Homo sapiens: one gene and its partners. The protein of the gene in region 2 purifies or fractionates together with the protein of the main gene of each other region. This does not show direct contact. Each region holds a gene or a part of one and is shown on either strand. Other genes may lie near its edges.

Evidence for each region.
Region 1: the proteins of TMEM31 (region 2) and VPS13C purify together in Homo sapiens (co-immunoprecipitation; 2 studies listed by BioGRID and IntAct, with this or other methods). This does not show direct contact.
Region 3: the proteins of TMEM31 (region 2) and VPS13D purify together in Homo sapiens (co-immunoprecipitation; 2 studies listed by BioGRID and IntAct, with this or other methods). This does not show direct contact.

The regions. Positions count from the first base shown.
Region 1 is NC_000015.10:61,851,266-61,854,447, reverse strand, and holds the end of VPS13C (intermembrane lipid transfer protein VPS13C), read left to right. Parts: 3' UTR 1-2,059; downstream 2,060-3,182. UniProt on the Homo sapiens protein: Mediates the transfer of lipids between membranes at organelle contact sites. Necessary for proper mitochondrial function and maintenance of mitochondrial transmembrane potential.
Region 2 is NC_000023.11:103,705,986-103,714,294, forward strand, and holds TMEM31 (transmembrane protein 31), read left to right. Parts: upstream 1-4,923; 5' UTR 4,924-5,091; intron 5,092-6,250; 5' UTR 6,251-6,273; coding exon 6,274-6,375; intron 6,376-7,534; exon of another isoform or gene 7,535-7,608; coding exon 7,609-8,013; 3' UTR 8,014-8,047; downstream 8,048-8,309.
Region 3 is NC_000001.11:12,225,397-12,233,427, forward strand, and holds the start of VPS13D (intermembrane lipid transfer protein VPS13D), read left to right. Parts: upstream 1-4,633; 5' UTR 4,634-4,724; intron 4,725-8,031. UniProt on the Homo sapiens protein: Mediates the transfer of lipids between membranes at organelle contact sites. Functions in promoting mitochondrial clearance by mitochondrial autophagy (mitophagy), also possibly by positively regulating mitochondrial fission.

The DNA of each region.
Region 1 (3,182 bases), on a different chromosome or scaffold from region 2:
TCAGGGGCTCCAACAGGGAGAAAAAACAATCACTGGTCTTGTCTATAAGTCACTCTGCTTTATCTTGCTAAAGACAATTTTTCAAGCAATCCTTTAGTTTTAGTTTTCTGGAATAGCTAGTATTGGGTTTTCTAGTTTTTTCACCTTTTAGTTTTTACTCTAATTTTGTAACCATGTATATGCTAGCAGTCCACTTCTACGCCACCACCCAAATGGGTCAGACCCTTGAAGAAACGTCACTTCAAACTCAGAATGAAATTTTCATTAATATTAAAATTGTGAAGCAAAGGTCAATAGGCTTATATTTAATTAAAGCCTTACTGAAGAATAAGAAATGAGCTTAGAATGACTAGTGTTCTTTGAAAGGTTTTTTTATTTTTGTTTTTTTGGGGTTTTTTTTTTTTTTGAGACCGAGTCTTGCTCTGTCGCCCAGGCTGGAATGCAGTGGTGCGATCTTGGCTCACTGCAATCTCTGCCTCTCGGGTTCAAGCTGTTCTACTGCCTCAGCCTCCTGAGTAGCTGGGATTACAGGTGTGTGCCACCACGCCTGGGTAATTTTTTTTTTTTTTGTATTTTTAGTAGAGATGAGTTTCACCATGTTGGTCAGTCTAGTCTCGAACTCCTGACCTTGTGATCCGCATGCCTCAGCCTCCCAAAGTGCTGGGATTACAGGCATGAGCCACCACGGCCCGCCAAAAGGCTTTAACCCATGAACAAATGTTGGATCCTGACATTTTGTTTAAGAGTGATTTGTTCAATAATTGAACTGAGTTAACATTCTTGGTAAACCAGGTAATTGAATGAAGAAAGGTCACTAAAGGGAGAAATGACATGTTTTCTATTTTCTTTTCATGAAAACACTGTTTTTCCCCCTAATAAAGCATATTTTACTTTGGTGCTTATTTTTCCTCCTTGCAGTCTAATAAAAAAATCTGGACAATCAAACCTTAAAATAGCTACACTCTGCCCTCTGTAATGTAGCATTCATAAAAATTTGGAAGTATTTACATCCTCTTTCAAGATGAGCTTATATGACACAATTATTATTTGCTGATACATGAAAATACTGCACTTTAAGTTTCTCAAGACTCTGAAATATGTAAAATTCAATATTTTTATATTCCCAGAAATTGTTTCTTACAGGTTGAAAGTCTTTTAAGGGCATCACAAATTAACATTTACTCCTAATGCACGCCTAGAATGTATTTTAAATACTTACTAAGAAGAATGAAAATTCTTTGGTTGTTTTATATATAAATAAGGCATATATAATGACACTGTGTTCTGTGAGGGAGCAGGCCCTGTGAGAATCAATTCAGGACAGTATTTTTTTTTGTCCTTTCTCCATCCTTGATCAGAGATAAACTATTAAAACTTTAAAAAATACTCAAAAATATGTAAGTTTTTTGGTTGAACCTTTAGATTTGCTCATAATGTTTAACATAACAACATTTATTTCAAATCACTGAATTCATGGAGATGTGGACACGCTTGGTTTGCTCTATTTTTGTTTATGTGTGATAGTGGTTCTGTCATCATCATTCATGTTTTTTAAGGCCTGGTCATAAAACTTTAAATTTTACTAGTGTTACTTAATGTATATTCTAAAAAGAGAATGCAGTAACTAATGCCCTAAATGTTTGATCTCTGTTTGTCATTACTTTTTCAAAATTATTTTTTTCTGTAAAGTATAATATATAAAACTTCTTGCTTAAATTGAATTTCTATATTAGTGGTTAATTGCAGTTTATTAAAGGGATCATTATCAGTAATTTCATAGCAACTGTTCTAGTGTTTTGTGTTTTTAAAACAGAATTAGGAATTTGAGATATCTGATTATATTTTTCATATGAATCACAGCTGTTGACAATGTCCCATATATTTAAGAAATTATATCATACTGATACTATTTGTAACATTTTGATTTGATTTAATCTCCAGGGACAGAAATAATTCATTGGTAAAGTGTAATAATGCGTTTTTTAAAAATGCTTTGAGAGGTAATTACTTGCATATGAGAGAAATAAAACATTTGGCACATTGTTTACAGGTGTGAAAACTTTGTGGGTTTGTGTTATTCAAGTAACATTTGCTTTACTTTTTGTCTTTCCCTTTTCCTCTTCCAATCCCAAAATAGTGAGAAGTTATATTGATAGTTATGGAGGACTTTACAAGATACTAGTCAGAAAAGCTTTTTCTCAGGGGTACTGAGCCCCTTTATCACACTAGAGATCTGTGGCAGAGACCTCCAATACTGGGGGATTACAGAGAATGCGGTTGACCTAGGGGCCCAGCTGCACTTTGAAATCCATTGCTGTATTTGCATTGAGCCCATGCCTTCCGTGGTTTCTCTCAGCGACTGGCTGAGTATGAAGTTATACTAAGACATACTTAGTCTGGAAATTCTAGGAGACACAGAACTCCTCTGACAGCCGACTTTGGCTTGAAGACTCTTCAGTGGCCTTGCAGAACCTTTCTTAGACTGCATGGCAGTCTGGGATGTTCTACCATACCGCTGTCTTTCTCTTCTCCTCCCTCTTCCACATGGGGCTCAGACTACCAGTTTGGAAGGCTCACCCAGTGCTGGATTATCTGGTAGGAAGAATAAGTTCATGCTGAGGGCTGTAGCAAAGCAGGGGCATTAAAAAAGGAAAAAAAAAAAAAAGGAAGAAGACTGTACCCAAGCTTCGTAAGAAAAATGCCATCCAGGGTGGACTTACTTCCATGTGTTTTATGATTTAGTATTGTTTTTATTTTGAATTATGCATGAAGGAGGACACTATCATCTTTTTGGTGCTTTGAGTTTCTAAGTATGTTGATCTGGTGCTGCCTGGATATCTGTTTTTAACGAAGTTCTGTGTGTGTTTCTAATGTACAGCCAGGACTAAAAATTAATGCTCTGGACTTAAAATGATCAAATTCTTAAAGGGCTCTACAGATCTCAATGTTAGTTAATATTAAGTTGCAATTATTGCCAGAGCTGGAAGAATCATCTTTTTATTGGGGAGAAAAACCAAAGATTCTTAGAGGATAGAAGATTGCTCATAACAGGGTCATTTGTCCTCTGGGGACAAGCCCTTGTGGTTGAGAATCACTGCCAGAATGACCATGAGTACTGATGAAAGTGGGTTCTGTGCCATGTGTGTCAGCTCTAAGAAGAAATCGAGACTCACTGGAGCGGA
Region 2 (8,309 bases):
ATCAATGTTGATCTAGTATAGGGGTCTTCTACGTGCCTAGTTCCTCCCCAGCAAACCTGAAGCCCATTCTATCCTTAACAAGGTTGCAGCGGCACCTTTATTTGCACACCAAAAGGAGGTGAAAGACCAGGTTGGAAATGAAGGGCCCTGGAAAATAGACTTTGGTGAGAAAGAAGAAACAAATGAAAGCCCAGCCAACAAAAGACACTCTGAGAATAGTTTCTCTATTCTACTCCTCCTGGGTTCCACTACCTTGGATCTCACTTTTCTCAAAAGTTTTCTAGCATCATAAAGTAAGTTTCTTAAAGAACAAGTATTTTTCTTTTTTTACACTCCCCAGCTGTCCAACAGATCCTGCCATCATGCTAGTTAATTAGGGAACGGAACGAATATTTCTGAGACCAGAATGTTCAGGTGGATCTGGAAGGTTAGTCTTTTTGAGAACCCAAAGTCTCTGCCCCAATTCTGACAGTAATTTCTGAACCAGCTACCCTGGTCAGCTCAGAACGCTCTCCTCAAAACTAAGAGACAGACAAGAGGAGTATCTCAGTGAACAGGAAAGAGCAGACAAGCGCAATAGGAAAAGGGATGAAGACAAAGTGTGGGGCTTCCCAAGAGACTTGAACACCTCTCTGTTGGGCCATATAGTCGCTAGCCCAGTGCAGCCTATGACTGTTCCAACCCTCTCGAGAGGTGGGGAACTTGCGGCTTTGCCTTCCTCTCACTTCAAGGAAACCTGACTAGGCCCCACAGGGCAGCACTTGTGGATAGGAGAAACTCACCATTTGAATCTGCAGCAGGAGGGACAGAGGACAGAGTAATGGCCAGGCTCTGGGTGGGAGGTGGCAGGGGGAGAAGTGGTGCAGATTAAGATGACAAATGCCAGAATCTAGCAGCAGTGTTCTGAATACTCTCCACTGGAGTATTGGAAAACAGGGAGGCTCCAGCAAGGGCAGAAGGTCATCCTGGCCCCAGGAATGTGGCCAAACCTTAGTCTCATGAGAAATGGGAAAGTATGGAGAAAATATGGACTAGGGTAGATAAGCCATCTTTATAAGTACAGCCACCATTGGCACCATGCAATATAGGCCCACATAGCTTTGGGACTGGTAGTTGAAGTTCTGAGTGGGAGATCAGGAAGGAACTGTCCAAACCCCTAATGGAGTCTAACTGAGGGAGAAAGCCCACCCAGGAGGAAGCAGGAGGCCAGCAGCAGGACTCTATAGCTCCCACCCTATTCACAGAGCCTGGTGGATATCTTCTGACCATAGCACTTTATAGACAACCCAGTAGAAGATATTGAAGATGAGGAAAGTGAAAGGGAAGACAGCCCGGGAGATGGTGTCAATTCTCTTGGCTCAGTCCACGTAGAGTTTCCGCGTGGTTTCTCCTTCCCTTAGAAGAGGGGCTGGAGGTTGGGGACTATAAATGCCAGAACCTTCCATTGGACCTCCATCTCTTGCCTGCAGGCAGTGGCCCAAGCCATAGCCACGGAAATAGAAACGACTTTCTTGGATGATATCTTCCTCCTGGAATTACAAGGAAGAAACGGCAGAATTTGAGGTCAAAGCTCAAAGGCAGAGGGATAGAGAACAGACCACCCATCAATATCTCATAGGGAATGTTATGCAGACAAGGTGCCTTGGGTACACAGGCCCATTGCATGCTTTTTATGGTCACAACACTACTCATGAGATAGATGTATGCTAAGCAGCTCTACGTGCTATATATAGTGTATGTCATGATTCCATGGCAGATAGGCTCTAAGCTACCCATGTAAAATGCAAAACATCATTTAGAGTTATCTAAAATCCAGTGAAGTGCCGGCCACTGTGAGAGGACATCTCAATGTCAAGTTATCTCTGACTGGTAATAAACAAAACAACAAAACTATTAGATAGTGAAGTTGAGATATTCAGTCTTAGTAAACTTGACTTTAATGACTTTCAAAAGCTTCAGAATTCATTCCCCTTTTGAATCGTATCTTTTAAAATTTATCTCAACTTAAAACTGAAAATTCCAAAAGTTTTAAATAACCCAATGAGTTATCCAAATTAGGATAAACACATGCCCAGTGAGGGGTAAATTTTATATAAGCACTAAGTAATGCGGCAGACTGCCAAAAGTCCATTTTCCAATAGTTAGCTGACAACCTTTAGTAGCTAAACGCAGCTAGGAGCCAGGAAGTAGGGACAGAAAGATAAAGTTGAGAGAGAAAGAGAGCAAGAGAGAGCGAGAGAGAGAGAGAGAGAGAGAGAGAGAGAACCAAAACCTCTGAGTGTCAATAGAGAGAGCTTTACTTATATGAGGCCCTCAGGCCCCCATTCACAGCCTATTTAGTCTTATTTTATATGCAACCCTAACAAGCCTAATTTTATTTACTTCTAAAGGACAGGGTTGAGAAATGCTTCCTTCAAAGATGGTGGTAATTTCTTAAAGTATTCATGGTTTTAGAGTCAAAGTTTCAGGTATCTAAGAAATCACCTGAAGTGCAATGGCCTCTTGGAGGACGATGCAAACTGTCATCTCGGTTTGTCCAGAACGGAAGGTGTTCCTAAGACTTGGGTCTTTCAGGGCTGAAACTGGGGAAGTGCAAGGCAAATCAGGAAGAGCTGGTCATCCTGTGGCTACCTGAGGTATTTATTATAAGTTATAAGAAAAAAATATGTGTATATTGTATAGGTATGACATAGATATATACAAAATGTGGATAAAGTAGATTTTAAACACTCTGTCTCTCTCAGTTAGAGGGACACCACAGGGTCTTTATCGTGGGACCTCTGCAGCTATGGCAACACACTGAAAAGTGGCTTTGCCAGGCACGGTGGCTCACACCTGTAATCCCAACACTTTGAGAGGCCGAAGCTGGCGGATCACGAAGTCAGGAGTTCGAGACCAGCCTGACCAATATGGTGAAACCTCTTCTCTACTAAAAATACAAAAATTAGTCAGGCGTGGTGGCGGGCACCTGTAATCCCAGCTACTCAGTAGGCTGAGGCAGGAGAATCGCTTGAACCCACGAGGCGGAGGTTGCAGTGAGCAGAGATTGCGCTATTGCACTCTAGCCTGGGTGACAGAGCGAGACTCCATCTCAAAAAAAAAAAAAGAAAAAGAAAAAAAAAAAGAAAAGTGGCTTTGTGTATGAGATGTTGGTGTTGTAGGTCCTAGTAACCCTTGATAATGACATGACTAGAAACTGACCTGTCATCATAAAGACAGGCCTTGGTTCACCTCACATGTACTCTGTAATTCATTTTTACACTATTCTGACAAAGGAGGTTGTGCTGGACCCATTTTCGAGGTGAAGAACCAGAGGCAAACAAAATATTTTGCAATAATTTTAAAATGAGGGGAGTAAGTAAAATGGTTTTCTCCTTTGATTTCCAGTTCAGGGTCCCTCAGATGACCCTGTTGCCCAGTACTCACCCTGATCCCCTGAGCCCTACCCTGGCTAGAGGATGTAAGCAAAGGATGTTGGCAAAAAAGCTCTGAGGGGGAAAGTTGGATCCAACTGCTATTTCTGTTTCTATAGATCTAATTATTTTCCCTTTTCTCCAATCATAATAAATCTAAAGGGAGTTATTTGGACACATTTCCCAGGCTGGAAAAAGCCATTTCACACAGGAGAGAAAATATGGCCAACAGAGTAAGCTGGTCTTGGCTTTTTGTGACTTTAACATACTGCACCTGTTGTAGCTGGAGGAGCAAAGATGAATGGCTTGAAATCCAGGGGTGGGGCATCCTGCATTTGGGTATTCTCTATTTAGGCCAAATTCTGAGGGGTGTTTGTGTGTGGGGTGTGTGTGTGTGTGTGTGTGTGCTGGAAAGGAACATTGGAGCCTTAAATACCACTTTGTGGCTTACATGCCTATTAAAATAGAACTTTTTTTCCCCTGGCTATCTATAGGGGAGAAGGACTGAGAAGCTAGAGAGGGAAGATATCTCAAAACCACGCTAAGGAGGGAATGCACAGTGTAGGAGGTAAAGTGTGGAGATGGGAAAGAGTGATTTGTATTGAAGTGAGAGGGGCTAGAAAAAAAGGGATTAGAGAATGGGGAATGAAGAGGGTGCTGGAGGATGAAGAGAGGTGGGCAGGGTTCTGGGACCAAGCCCTTGAGAGGACTGGGCAGTATTTTGAAATTTCTTCCAGTTATCAAGTTATTCTATTGATCATGGCAAAGCTTTTGCTCTGTCCAGTTTGAAAGACAGTCCTCTCCAATCAGCCTGTAAAAGTTGGTGAGCTGGGTTACATGACTGCTGTGTCCAGAGCCTGGTGCTAAGGCCTGCTGAGGAGATGAAAAAGAGCTTCCCTTTCCTGGGGAAGCTTATGGACTAGCCGGGAAGACAGTGTAGGATTGCATGGGTAAAAAGTAAACCACTTTAGGCAGTGACATGAAAGGGGGCCACCATGCTATGGAGTTGTTGGTTGAGGAGAGAGTTGAGAAGAAAAGATGTGAATGGCTGGCTGGTTCCTAGAACACTCCTAACTGACTCTTGGCTAAGGGTTCCCTGGAGATCACATGGATTTTCTCCCTGCCCTCTCAGACTGAAGAATTCTTTTTCCCTAGCTGGAGCAGTAGGGCCCGGACAGAGGTTCTAGAAATGGATGAACTCTCCAACAATTTTTTCAGCCTGCTTGGTGCCTCCAAAATACCTGCTACAGGTCCTGGGATAACAGTGACTTTAGAAGACTCAAAAAAGGACATGACGAATGGCACGGGTTTGATTTTCAGTTTTATTCACGTTAATAATAATAATAATTCACGTTAAAAAAAGCCTCAGCCCACTTTTAGGCAGGCCCCAGAGTCCTAAGCAAGGCCCAGGCTGCTGTTGTAACTTTGTAATAATTGAGCACTGGTCATGACAGACTCCATTATGAGCTCAGGATCAGCCTATATATATGAGCAGGAGGGGACAGGCTGCAGGCAGTTGCGGGTTGCAGGAGTTCAGGAAAGGAGGTGGGACTAGAGTCAACCTGGAATAGCTCTACAGTAACAATGGCAGCCTTTTTGTTGCTGGGACATCCATACAGGCAACTTAGCTGGTGAAAGGACTCTGGATTGGTTGGCAGTCTGCTTTTTTTTTTCCAAGGTAGGCATTGAGAAGGCACCAAGATCAAAACTCCTATAAAGATAAGATCTTGGTACCTGCAGGCAGATTTGTTCGACACAGCTAAAGAGGGGGTGGGGACAGTTAGCTTAGAAAATGGAGTGTCCTGGCCGGGCGCGGGGGCTCACGCCTGTAATCTCAGCACTTTGCGAGGCCGAGGCGGGCGGATCACGAGGTCAGGATATCGAGACCATCCTGGCTAACACGGTGAAACCCTGTCTCTACTAAAAATACAGAAAATTAGCCGGGCGTGGTGGCGGGCGCCTGTAGTCCCAGCTACTCAGGAGGCTGACGCAGGAGAATGGCGTGAACCCGGGAGGCGGAGCTTGCAGTGAGCCCAGATCACGCCACTGCACTACAGCCTGGGCGACAGAGCGAGACTCCGTCTCAAAAAAAAAAAAAAAAAGAAAAAAGAAAATGGAGTGTCCTTTTTTCTTGCCCTTCTGCTAGGTGTATACACATATTTTTCTAACCCTTGGTATGGGTTAGGAAATGCTTTTAGGTTTCTTGAAGAATGAGTCCTACTCGAGGACATGTAGTTGTGGATTAGTCCACTAGAGGGCGTACTGCCCAGGGACCAACTAAAGGACTAAAGGGTAGGGACTGATAAATTCAAACCACTAGATGAGACAGGAGCCCTGCCCTCAGCAGAAAGGAACCTTAGCAAGGGACATGAAACCAAGGAGGTAGTTTGTGAGATATTTTTAGTGCGGACATACGGTAGGGGTGCCCCTGGAGCAGCTGAGGTGGGAGGTGGTGTGTTGAGGAGAGAACATTCCTTGTGCTAGTGTGGCCCAGACAAGCTAGAGTCAGGATTTTAAGAGTGGGTTCACAGCATTGTTTCCCATCCCCCAGAGGTCATTATGCTCTTGCCTCTCTGGCTTTAGAGCCTCCAGATTAGACAGAAAACATGGAGTCAGAGCTGAAGACAGACCAGAACTCTGTGTCTCTAATGGTTAAGCAACCAGTATGTAGCTCAGTTAAGCCTTTCAGCTTTGCTCATAATTGGACACTTGCTTCTGTGAGGCTGGCCCAGGCACCTCTGTTGTCATGACAACTTACCTAGCACCTATTGTCTGGGCAATTGGGGGTAAACTGCCTCTGTTGTCATGACGACAAGATTTCTTTTATATTTCCCCAGGTGATCACTTTACTGTAGAAGAAATGAGGTTAACAGAAAAGAGTGAGGGAGAACAACAACTCAAGCCCAACAACTCTAATGCACCCAATGAAGATCAAGAAGAAGAAATCCAACAGTCAGAACAGGCAAGTGGTGGTTTCTCAATTCCAACTTAGTTATGGGGGTCCTCTTATAATGCTCCCCTAGAAAGACACCAATGCCTGATTGTTGAATTCTTAACCACCAATTAGTGTATGACAACCTGGGCTACCTTCCTCCCGGTTGTGGGGGAGCAATTACTACTCAAAGCAATCTCTTTTTATTTATTTATTTATTTACTTATTTTTTGAGATGGAGTCTCACTCTGTTGCCCAGGCTGGAGTGCAGTGGTGTGATCTCAGCTCACTGCCAGCTTCAAGTGATTCTCCTGCCTCAGCCTCCTGAGTAGCTGGGATTACAGGTGCCCACCACCACACCGGCTAATTTTTGTATTTTTAGTAGAGACAGGGTTTCACCATGTTGGTCAGGCTGGTCTCGAACTCCTAACCTTGTGATCCACCCGCCTTGGCCTCCCAAAGTGCTGGGATTACAGGCGTGAGCCCCCGTGCCTGGCAAAGCAATCTCTTATTAGCTAACTTGGTAAGGTTCTACTACTAGCTAACATATCTTCAGTGCTTATTCTATGTCAAGCAGTGTGCCCATGCCCTTAATCAATCTACTATACTGACTTACAGAATCAAAGAGATTAAAGTAATCAAAGAGATTAAAATCAAAGAGATTAAAGTAATCAAAGAGATTAAAGTAATCAAAGAGATTAAAGTACTTAGCTTAACAGTGACCAGCTTAGTACTAGAATCCAGGTTTCTTTCTTTCTTTCTTTCTTTTTTTTTTTTGAGAAGGAGTTTTGCTCTTGTTGACCAGGCTGGAGTGCAATGGCTCAATCTCGGCTCACCGCAAACTCCGCCTCCTGGGTTCAAGCGATTCTCCTGCCTCAGCCTCACAAGTAGCTGGGATTACAGGCATGCGCTACCACGCCCGGCTAATTTTGTATTTTTAGTAGAGACAGGGCTTCTCCATGTTGATCAGGCAGGTCTCGAACTCCCGACCACAGGTGATCCGCCCACCTCGGCCTCCCAAAGTGCTGGGATTACAGGCGTGAGCCACTGCGCCCTTATGAATCCAGGGTTTCTGATTGCCTATCTAGTCCTTGCAGCCCTGGGGTGGGTCTTGGTTTGTGGGGAGGCGGAGTAGGGAGGAAGGAGTCCAAAGGAGAAAGGCAGTGGGCCGCTCCCTAGTTGTACTCACCAAGCGTTGGCGCCTCTGCCTTCTTCGAAGTCGTATGAATTCTTTATGCTGACGAGAAACAAAATTTATGGCAGCATACTCCAGCAAGGCAGCGAACACAAAGAGCAGACACACAGCCATCCAGATGTCGATTGCCTTCACGTAGGACACCTACAACATCCAGCGACAGAACGATCAACCTTCTTGAAGTCCTTCCGTGGCCTACTGAGTGGATTTTCAACCCCTATCGATTGCCTGCTCTTTTTGAGCTTTATCCTGAATTTCTTCTGGTGTTTAAAGAAGCCTTCCATGACATATCCCATTGTCTGAAAGCCCAGATGGAAAAGATCGGACTGCCCATCATACTCCACCTCTTCGCACTCTCCACCCTCTACTTCTACAAGTTTTTCCTTCCTACAATTCTTTCCCTTTCTTTCTTTATTCTTCTTGTACTTCTGCTTCTGCTTTTTATTATTGTCTTCATTCTGATCTTCTTCTGATTCTTTTGTTTCAATAAACAGCAATGAGCATGAACACTGCATTTGTCTTCCCTCTGTTATCTCCTAGGGTCCTCACAGCCTCAGTGGTAATTGGTCAGGCAGCGTTCACAATTCCGATGTGAGACACATGAGGACACTTAAGGCCCAGAGCAGATGGTCTTAGCCAAGATTACCCAGTGAGAAGGTGGCACTAGGACCTGAGGGTTCTGGGCTTTCAATTCAGTGGCATTGCCATTTACTTAGGCTGTGGTCTCACTGACAAACTAGGAGTTCCTTCCTTTCCCTCCTCCACCCCT
Region 3 (8,031 bases), on a different chromosome or scaffold from region 2:
AGTGCAGTGGCCTGATCTCAGCTCACTGCAAGCTCTGCCTCCCAGGTTCACACCATTCTCCTGCCTCAGCCTCCCAAGTAGCTGGGACTACAGGCGCCCGCTACCATGCTCGGCTAAATTTTTTGTATTTTTAGTAGAGACAGGGTTTCACCATGTTGGCCAGGATGGTCTTGATCTCCTGACCTTGTGATGCACCTGTCTCGGCCTCCCAAAGTGCTGGGATTACAGGCGTGAGCCACTGTGCCCGACCACCTTTAGGGTTTTTACGTGGGCATGATTGACTGAATAATTGGCCATTGGTGATTGAACTCAATCTCCAATCCTCCCCGCAGGTCGGAGGCGGTCAAAGAGTGTGTGTTTTTGCGTGAGATAGGCCCACCCTCTCTCTAATAACATGGTTGCTCCCTCTGGAAACCAGCCCCATTCTGAAGCTGTCTAGGGACTTTCAGCCACCAGTCGTCTCAGGAACCTACGAAAAGACACTCTTATCTCTCTGGAGATCCTGGTGGTCCCAGGAACTCTTGGGTTGGGAACTTGGGGATGTTGACCAAAGAGTATAAAGTTTGGGCCAGGTATGGTGGTCACGCCTGTCATCCCAGCACTTTGGGAGGCCGAGGTGGGTGGATTACTTGAGGCTAGGAGTTTGAGACCAGCCTGGCCAACATGATGAAACACCGTCTCTACTAAAAGTACAAAAATTTGCCAGGCGTGGTGGTACATATCTGTAATCTCAACTACTGGGGAGGCTGAGGCAGGATAATCACTTGAACCTGGGAGGCAGAGGTTGCAGTGAGCTGAGATCGCGCCACTGCACTCCAGCCTGGGCAACTGGGTGACAGAGAGAGACTCCGTCTCAAAAAAAAAAAAAAGAAACAAAACAAAGAGTACGAAGTTTCAGTTAAACAAGAGAAAGAAGCTATAGTGATCTATTGCTCAGAATGGTGACTATAAGAAATAATACATTGCATATTTCAGAATTGCTAAAAGAGTAGGTTTTAAATGCTTTCATCTGGCCGGGCGCGGTGGCTCACGCCTGTAATCCCAGCACTTTGGGAGGCTGAGGCGGGCGGATCACGAGGTCAGGAGATCGAGACCATCCTGGCTAACACGGTGAAACCCCGTCTCTACTAAAAATACAAAAAAAATTAGCCGGGCATGGTAGCGGGCGCCTGTAGTCCCAGCTACCCGGGAGGCTGAGGCAGGAGAATGGCGTGAACCCGGGAGGCGGAGCTTGCAGTGAGCCAAGACAGCGCCACTGCAGTCCAGCCTGGGCGAAAGAGCGAGACTCCGTCTCAAAAAAAAAAAAAAAGTTTTCATCCAAAAAAGTATGTTAGCTGATGGATTTGTTCATTAGTGTGAATTAATCATTCCACATTGTAAATAGATATCAAAACAGTGCACTGTAGCCCATAAATATATACAATTATTTGTCAATTAAATTTTTGAAAAAAGCTGTGAGCAGTGTCTCCTGCCTGTAATCCCAGCACTTCGGGAGGCCAAGGTGGGAGGAATGCTTGAGCTCAGGGGTTCAAGACCAGCCTGGACAACATGGCAAAACCCCATCTCTACTAAAAATACAAAAATTAGCCGGGCGTGGTGGTGCACGTCGGGAATCCCAGCTACTCGGGAGGCTGAGGCATGAGAATCACTTGAACCTGGGAGGCAGAGGCTGCAGTGAGCCGAGATTGTGCCACTGCACTCCAGCCTGGGCGACAGAGTAAGATTGTCTCAAACAAACAAACAAACAAACAAACAAAACCCCCCAAATCAGCTGGGTGTGGTAGTGCATCTGTAGCCTGTAGTTCCTCTGACAGTTTTGTCTTTTCTGGAATTTCACAGAAATGAAATCACTACGGTATGTGGTCTTTTTCCACATAGCTAATACTTTTGAGGTTCCTCCAGATCGTGCCTGCGTCAGCCCTACTCACCTTTTTGTTGGTGAGTAGTGCTCCATTGTATGACTATGTTGCAATTTGTTTGTCCACTCTCCTGTTGATGGACATTTTGATTGTTTTTTTTTGTTTCTGGCTTTTATGAATAAAGCTGCTATGAGTGTTCATGTATAAGTCTTGGTGTGGGCATATGTTTTAATTTCTCTTGGCTAATATCTAGCAGTGGGATTGCTGTATGGTAAATGTATATTTAAACATTTATAGGAAACTGGGGGCACGAAGACTTTCAGTAATACTGGTCGAATCAATGGTGCCCAGGAATTTGCATTTTTGAGACAGGGTCTCTGTTGCGCAGGTTGGAGTGCACAGGCATGATCATTGCTCACTGTAACCTTGAACTCATGGGCTCAAGCAATCCTCCTCCCAGTAGTTGGGAGTACAGGCATGTGCCACCGTGCCCAGCTAATTTTTTCATTTATAATTTTTTGTAGAGATTGGGGTCTCCTTATGTTGCACAGGCTGGTCTTGAATTCCTGGCCTCAAAAAATCCCCCCCACTGCCTTGGCCTCCCAAAGTGCTAGGATTACTGGTGTGAGCCACGGTGCCAGGCCATGTGCAGTATTTTTTTGGATTTTTTTTGAGATGGAGTCTTGCTCTGTTGCCGAGGCTGGAGTGCAATGGCGAGATCTCGGCTCACTGCAACCTCTGCCTCCTGGGTTCAAGCAATTCTCCTGCCTTAGCCAGGAGAGTAGCTGGGATTACAGGCACCTGTGACCATGCCCGGCTAATTTTTGTATTTTTAGTAGAGATGGGGTTTTGCCAAGTTGGTCAGGCTGGTCCTGAACTCCTGACCTCAGGTGATCCACCCACATCTGCCTCCCAAAGTGCTGAGATTACAGGCATGAGCCACCGCGCCTGGCCTGGGCCATGTGCATTTCTAACAAGCTTCCCAGGTACAGCCAATTGTCTGTGCTAGGTGATCTGGACTTCGAGGTCCTTCACCTCTGAAGGACTGCCTTCCTTCCTCCTTCTGTCTGTGGAGTTCCAGGTTTTACTCCCAAACCTCAGCCCCAGAGGAGACCCAGCATCCAGATTCTGAGAGGTTGATCCCACCATACAGGAACCCCAGTCTTGCTCAGGAGTGAGTCAGCCCAACATGCACCCTCATTAGCTTAGCATCATGAGGGTTGGTAATTATTATGGTAAATACATGATTGTAACCTTGCCGTTCTGCTTCCTGCATCTTCTAATTTATATGAGCCTGAGGTCTCCCTCTTGCCCTTCTTGTGATAATGCAAGGAGGAAGTGTTCAGCTGTTCATTCATACACACTCATTGAGTCTTTTCTGTGCTAGGCAATGTCTAGGTGTTGAAGAAACACTGTGAAAGGGATAAAATCTCTGTTTTCAAGGTACTGGGGAAAGAACAACATATGTATAAACAAACAAGATAATCTCAGGGAGTATTAGGTTCCATGAATAAAATACAACAGGGTAATGGATAATGGAACTTTATTTTTATTTTCATTTTTGAGAGGGAGTCTCACTCTGTCTGGAGTGCAGAGGGGTGATCTCGGCTGACTGCAACCTCCGCCTCCCGGGTTCAAGTGATTCTCCTGCCTCAGCTTCCCCAGTAGCTGGGACTACAGGTGTGCACTACCACGCCCGGCTAATTTTTGTAGTTTTAGTAGAGATGGGGTTTCACTATGTTGGCCAGGCTGGTCTCAAACTCCTGACTTCAGTGATCCGCCCGCCTCAGCCTCCTGAAGTGCTGGGATTACAGGCATGAGCCACTGTGCCCAGCTCATAATGGAACCGTAGATAGGCACAAGTCCTCTCTGAGTGGAATATTTGAAGCCAGAGGGAGTCAGCTATACGAATATCCAGAGCTATTCTGTAGCTCTGGATTGGCCACAAGAGGGTATTGAGCACTGGAATTCTGGCTAGTTTGTACTGAGATGCGCAGTAAATGTAAAATATACCCGAATTTCAAAAACTTACTATAAAAAAGTTAACATATTGTATTAGTAATTTTTTCTTTTGGCGACATGTTGAGATGATCATATTTTGAACATATTGGATTAAATATATTAAAATGAAGTTCATTTTCTTCTTTTTCGTTTAAAAAAAATGTACTAGCTAGTAAATGTGGATTGCCTATGTGGCTGGCATTGTGTTTCTATTGGTCTGAGGAGAAGGGTCCTAGGTAGAGACAACGGCAAAGGTACAGTTCCTGGGGCAGAAACTGAAGGATGCTGAGGCAGAGTCGGCCGGGGAAAAAGTGGCTGAAATGGGAAGGGACCAGATCCAGTGGGACCTTGGTGGCAGCTCTGTAAGGAGGTGGGTTTTAACTGAAGTACGGTGGGGACGCCGTTTTAAGCAGGGAAGGGCAGGGTCTGAATTAACAGGCCCCTGTGGCTGCGAAGTGGGGAACGGACTGTGGGTGAGTGGGCCAGACGGACGGCCAATCGCACCTTTCGCTTGGATGGAAGGCAGGGTGGTTGTAGGTGGGAAGAATCCTGGGTTCCCATGCTGTCTGAACCAGAGTCATTTGTGGCCCTGCCCTCCCCTGGGACTCAATTTCCCCACCTATAAAATAAGCCCCAGTGTCCGCGAACCCTGGAGGGGCCCGCACCACTGCAGGAGCGGCCGCCGGCGCCAGGGGGCGCCTCCTCGATAACTCGGCGCTCGGCTGGCCAGGCACCGGCGCGTCGGCCGCTCGATTGGTCGGGTCGGGGCCGGCCTGAGCGCCGCGGGCCTGCGCCATTGAGGAGCGGCGGGGAGGAAACGCCGCGCAGCGCCGGGCTGGGGCGGGCGGCCCGGGACACCGACAGGTAGGGGCCGAGCGGCTCCGTGCCGGGCGGGGCCAGGGTCGGGAACTGCAGGGCCGGCGCGGACCCGCGGGCCGCCGCTAGGGCTCCGCCTGGACATGGGGGCCCGGGCCCACCCTGGGGAGAGCGATGCTAGGAGCCTGGGGGCCCCGTCGTCCGGCCTCGGTCTGAGCCCCTCGGGGTAACCCTGGGCGTCTGCTCCCCCCGGGCCCCAAGCCCGCCACCTCCGGGGACCCCTGCGTCCGAGTCCCCGCGAGCTCCCCAAGCACAGGCTCGGGGCTGGCTGAACCTCTGGGAACCCCGACGTCCGTGTCCTGGGGAGCCCGAGCCCCCGCTGGACCCCGGCACACTTTCCGGGGTCCCAGCAGCCTGGCGCCCTGGAATTGGGGGGTGTCAGTCCGCGCCTGTCCGCCTGAGCCTTGGTCTCAATGCAGGACCCCAGTGTGCGAGCCCCCCACATTACGCCGAAGAGTGGGGTGTCAGTTCTCTAGAATGCCTTAGCCACCTCCCTTAATCAGCCACCCGAGGTCACACTCTCGCGTGGAGACATCAGGCCTAAAACCTCTCTTTACCTTTTGCCCCCCAGGGTCACGCCCTGGCCCAGCCACTCCTCCTAGGTGTGGGATGCCAGACATCAGGCCTAAAACCTCTCTTTACCTTTTACCCCCCAGGGTCACGCCCTGGCCCAGCCACTCCTCCTAGGTATGGGATCCCGGCGCCGTTCCCTCCAGGTTTTACTTGGGTGGTGGGGTCTCTGTCCCCTGGAGGGGGCTGAGGGTTCCGAGAGCTGGGGGCGGGAGGGTTGTGGGAGCGTCGCCTTCCGGGCAGTGCCGTTCCTGTGGGGCCACCGGTCGCACAGCCGTCCCCGCCCCGGTTTTGGAGCTCCCTGGCGCCGGCAGCGTTCAGCCCTGGCCGCCTCGGGGAGGGACGCCCAGGTCCGGTTGCCAGTCCTTCCTATTCCCGGTCTGGCCGCTCCTCAGGGGAGGGGCCTGGCTCAAGGTCATGCCCGGCTGTCTGCCCGCCCGTGGGCTCAGCACTGATCCCTACTGTCACCCGCCCCACTGGGTAGGGGAGCCCAGGTGGGGGTTAGTGCCAGTGCCAGGCAGCTGCCTAGAAGTCCTGATGGACCGGAGTGTAAACACTTTGGGACTCTGGCCAGTCTGGCGGCCCTTGCTGACACTGAATTCCTTCAGGGAATCCTTGAAGTGGCCTCAAGCACGGTCTAGATGCTTAGCAGAGCAAATAATGGGTGCTTTCTGGTTTGGGCCTCAATGTTACTGACCAGGTTGCCTCACAATGCTAATCACTCATGCTTTTAAAATCTGTGCTTTGCATTCTTTTCCGTTTAGGGCAAGTAGGGTAGGGCCTGAACTTGTTTACAAACTGACAGTTGTTTCCCTTGATTTGGAGATAATTGGTAATTGGCACTCAGAGTTGGCATTTAGGGCCGAAATTAGTGGCAATAACTACAAAAATAAAGAGTACTCTGACCTTGGCTTCTTGCTCAAATTTGTTTGGAGTCCCCATAGTAAGATTAGTCAGTTTCACATTTGGTTTTCACAAATTTACTCCTTTCAAGTTATAATAGTGGCCGGGCACGGTGGCTCACGCCTGTAATCCCAGCACTTTGGGAGGCCAAAGTGGGCAGATCGCTTAAGGTCAGGATTTCAGACCAGCCTGGCCAACATGATGAAACCCTGTCTCTACCAAAAATACAAAACTTAGCCGGGGATGGTGGCAGGTGCCTGTAATCCCAGCTACTCAGGAGGCAGAGGTAGGAGAATCGCTTGAACCCAGGAGATGGCGGTTGCAGTGAGCCGAGATCCGAGATCCCGTCACTGCACTCCAGCCTGGGCGAGGGAGCAACACTCTGTCTCCAGAAAAAAAAGTTACAATAGAGAAATGTTTCTTTTATTCAGACTGTTGAGCATTTTTTTTAAAAAATTGTTCTTATAACATCTTCTTTAAACAAATGTAGCTAATAATTAGTTTTATGTAACTCTACCCTTAAAAAATATCTTTATATTCCATTTGCAGAAAAAAAAATCTTTGGAAAGAAATTGGTCAAATATTTTACCAAATGCTGTTTTTTTCTTTTTGCTGTCACTGTTGACCAATAAAAGTTAATCTTCTCTGGAAGTACAAGATATTGTTGACAAACAAAAGCCAGTTTTTCCAGGAGATTGAATTCATTCTTGTGGAGGCCTTGTGCTTCAGGTAGTTGTTGGATGGCAGCCTCTCAGTTGGGATAGGTGTATCTTCTGGCACTAAGATGAATCACTAGAGGTGGGGCAGCGTGCTTGGAGAGGATCCTGAAAGTAGGCTGGCTCCAGTGGGATGCGTGCCATGGCAAGTCTGTAGTGCCTGGCAGGGTGGCTGATGACTGACATGGTGGATCAGAACAAGATTTGAGGCTCACAGTTTCCACTGGGATCTTCTAGTTGAGCAATCTCAGAACCCAGTTAAACTTTTGTGTCTCAGTTTCCCTCATGTTGACTTTTTGTAATACTAAAATTAGTCTTTTTTTTTTTTTTTTTTTTTTTTTGGTAATACTGGTAAACACCAGTTATTATAACAGGCAGTAGTACCTACAAAATCTAAATACCGTGGCTGGAGCCAGAGGATTTCTGGAGTTTGGGGTTTGTAATAATCGACTAAGATTGTTCATTGTATCAGCGTCATCTGGTGCCCAGGTACCAGTAATGCAGTTCCAGGACATTTAAGAACAGTGATAAAGCACTGTCGCCTCTCTCCCATGTATATTATTTTATAAGTGATCCTCATGAACAAATTTGAGACATTTAATTTGGGCGGCCTAAATGAGGATCATTAAAGAATGTGAATTCTCCCCCCACCCCCAACTTTATTCAGGTTTGTTTCATGAGTTTCTTTTTCTTTTTTTTTTTGAGATGGAGTCTCACTCTGTCACCCAGGCTGGAGTGCGGTGGTGTGATCTTGGCTCACTGCAACCTCTGCCTCCCGGGTTCAAGGGATTCTCCTGCCTCAGCCTCCCGAGTAGCTGGGATTACAGGTGCCTGCCACCATGCCTGGCTAAGTTTTGTATTTTTGGTAGAGACAGGGTTTCACCATGTTGGCCAGGCTGGGTTTGGACTCCTGACCTCAGGTGATCCACCTGCCTCGGCCTCCCAAAGTGCTGGGACTCCAGGCGTGAGCCACCACCCCCGGCCTCTTTCATGAATTTCATTCAGACAATCTCTTACGGCATTTTCTGTCTTAATCTAGGATAAGGTTTCTTAACATTGGCTCTGTTGACATTTGGGTTGGATAATTCTTTGCTGTGGGAGCTGTC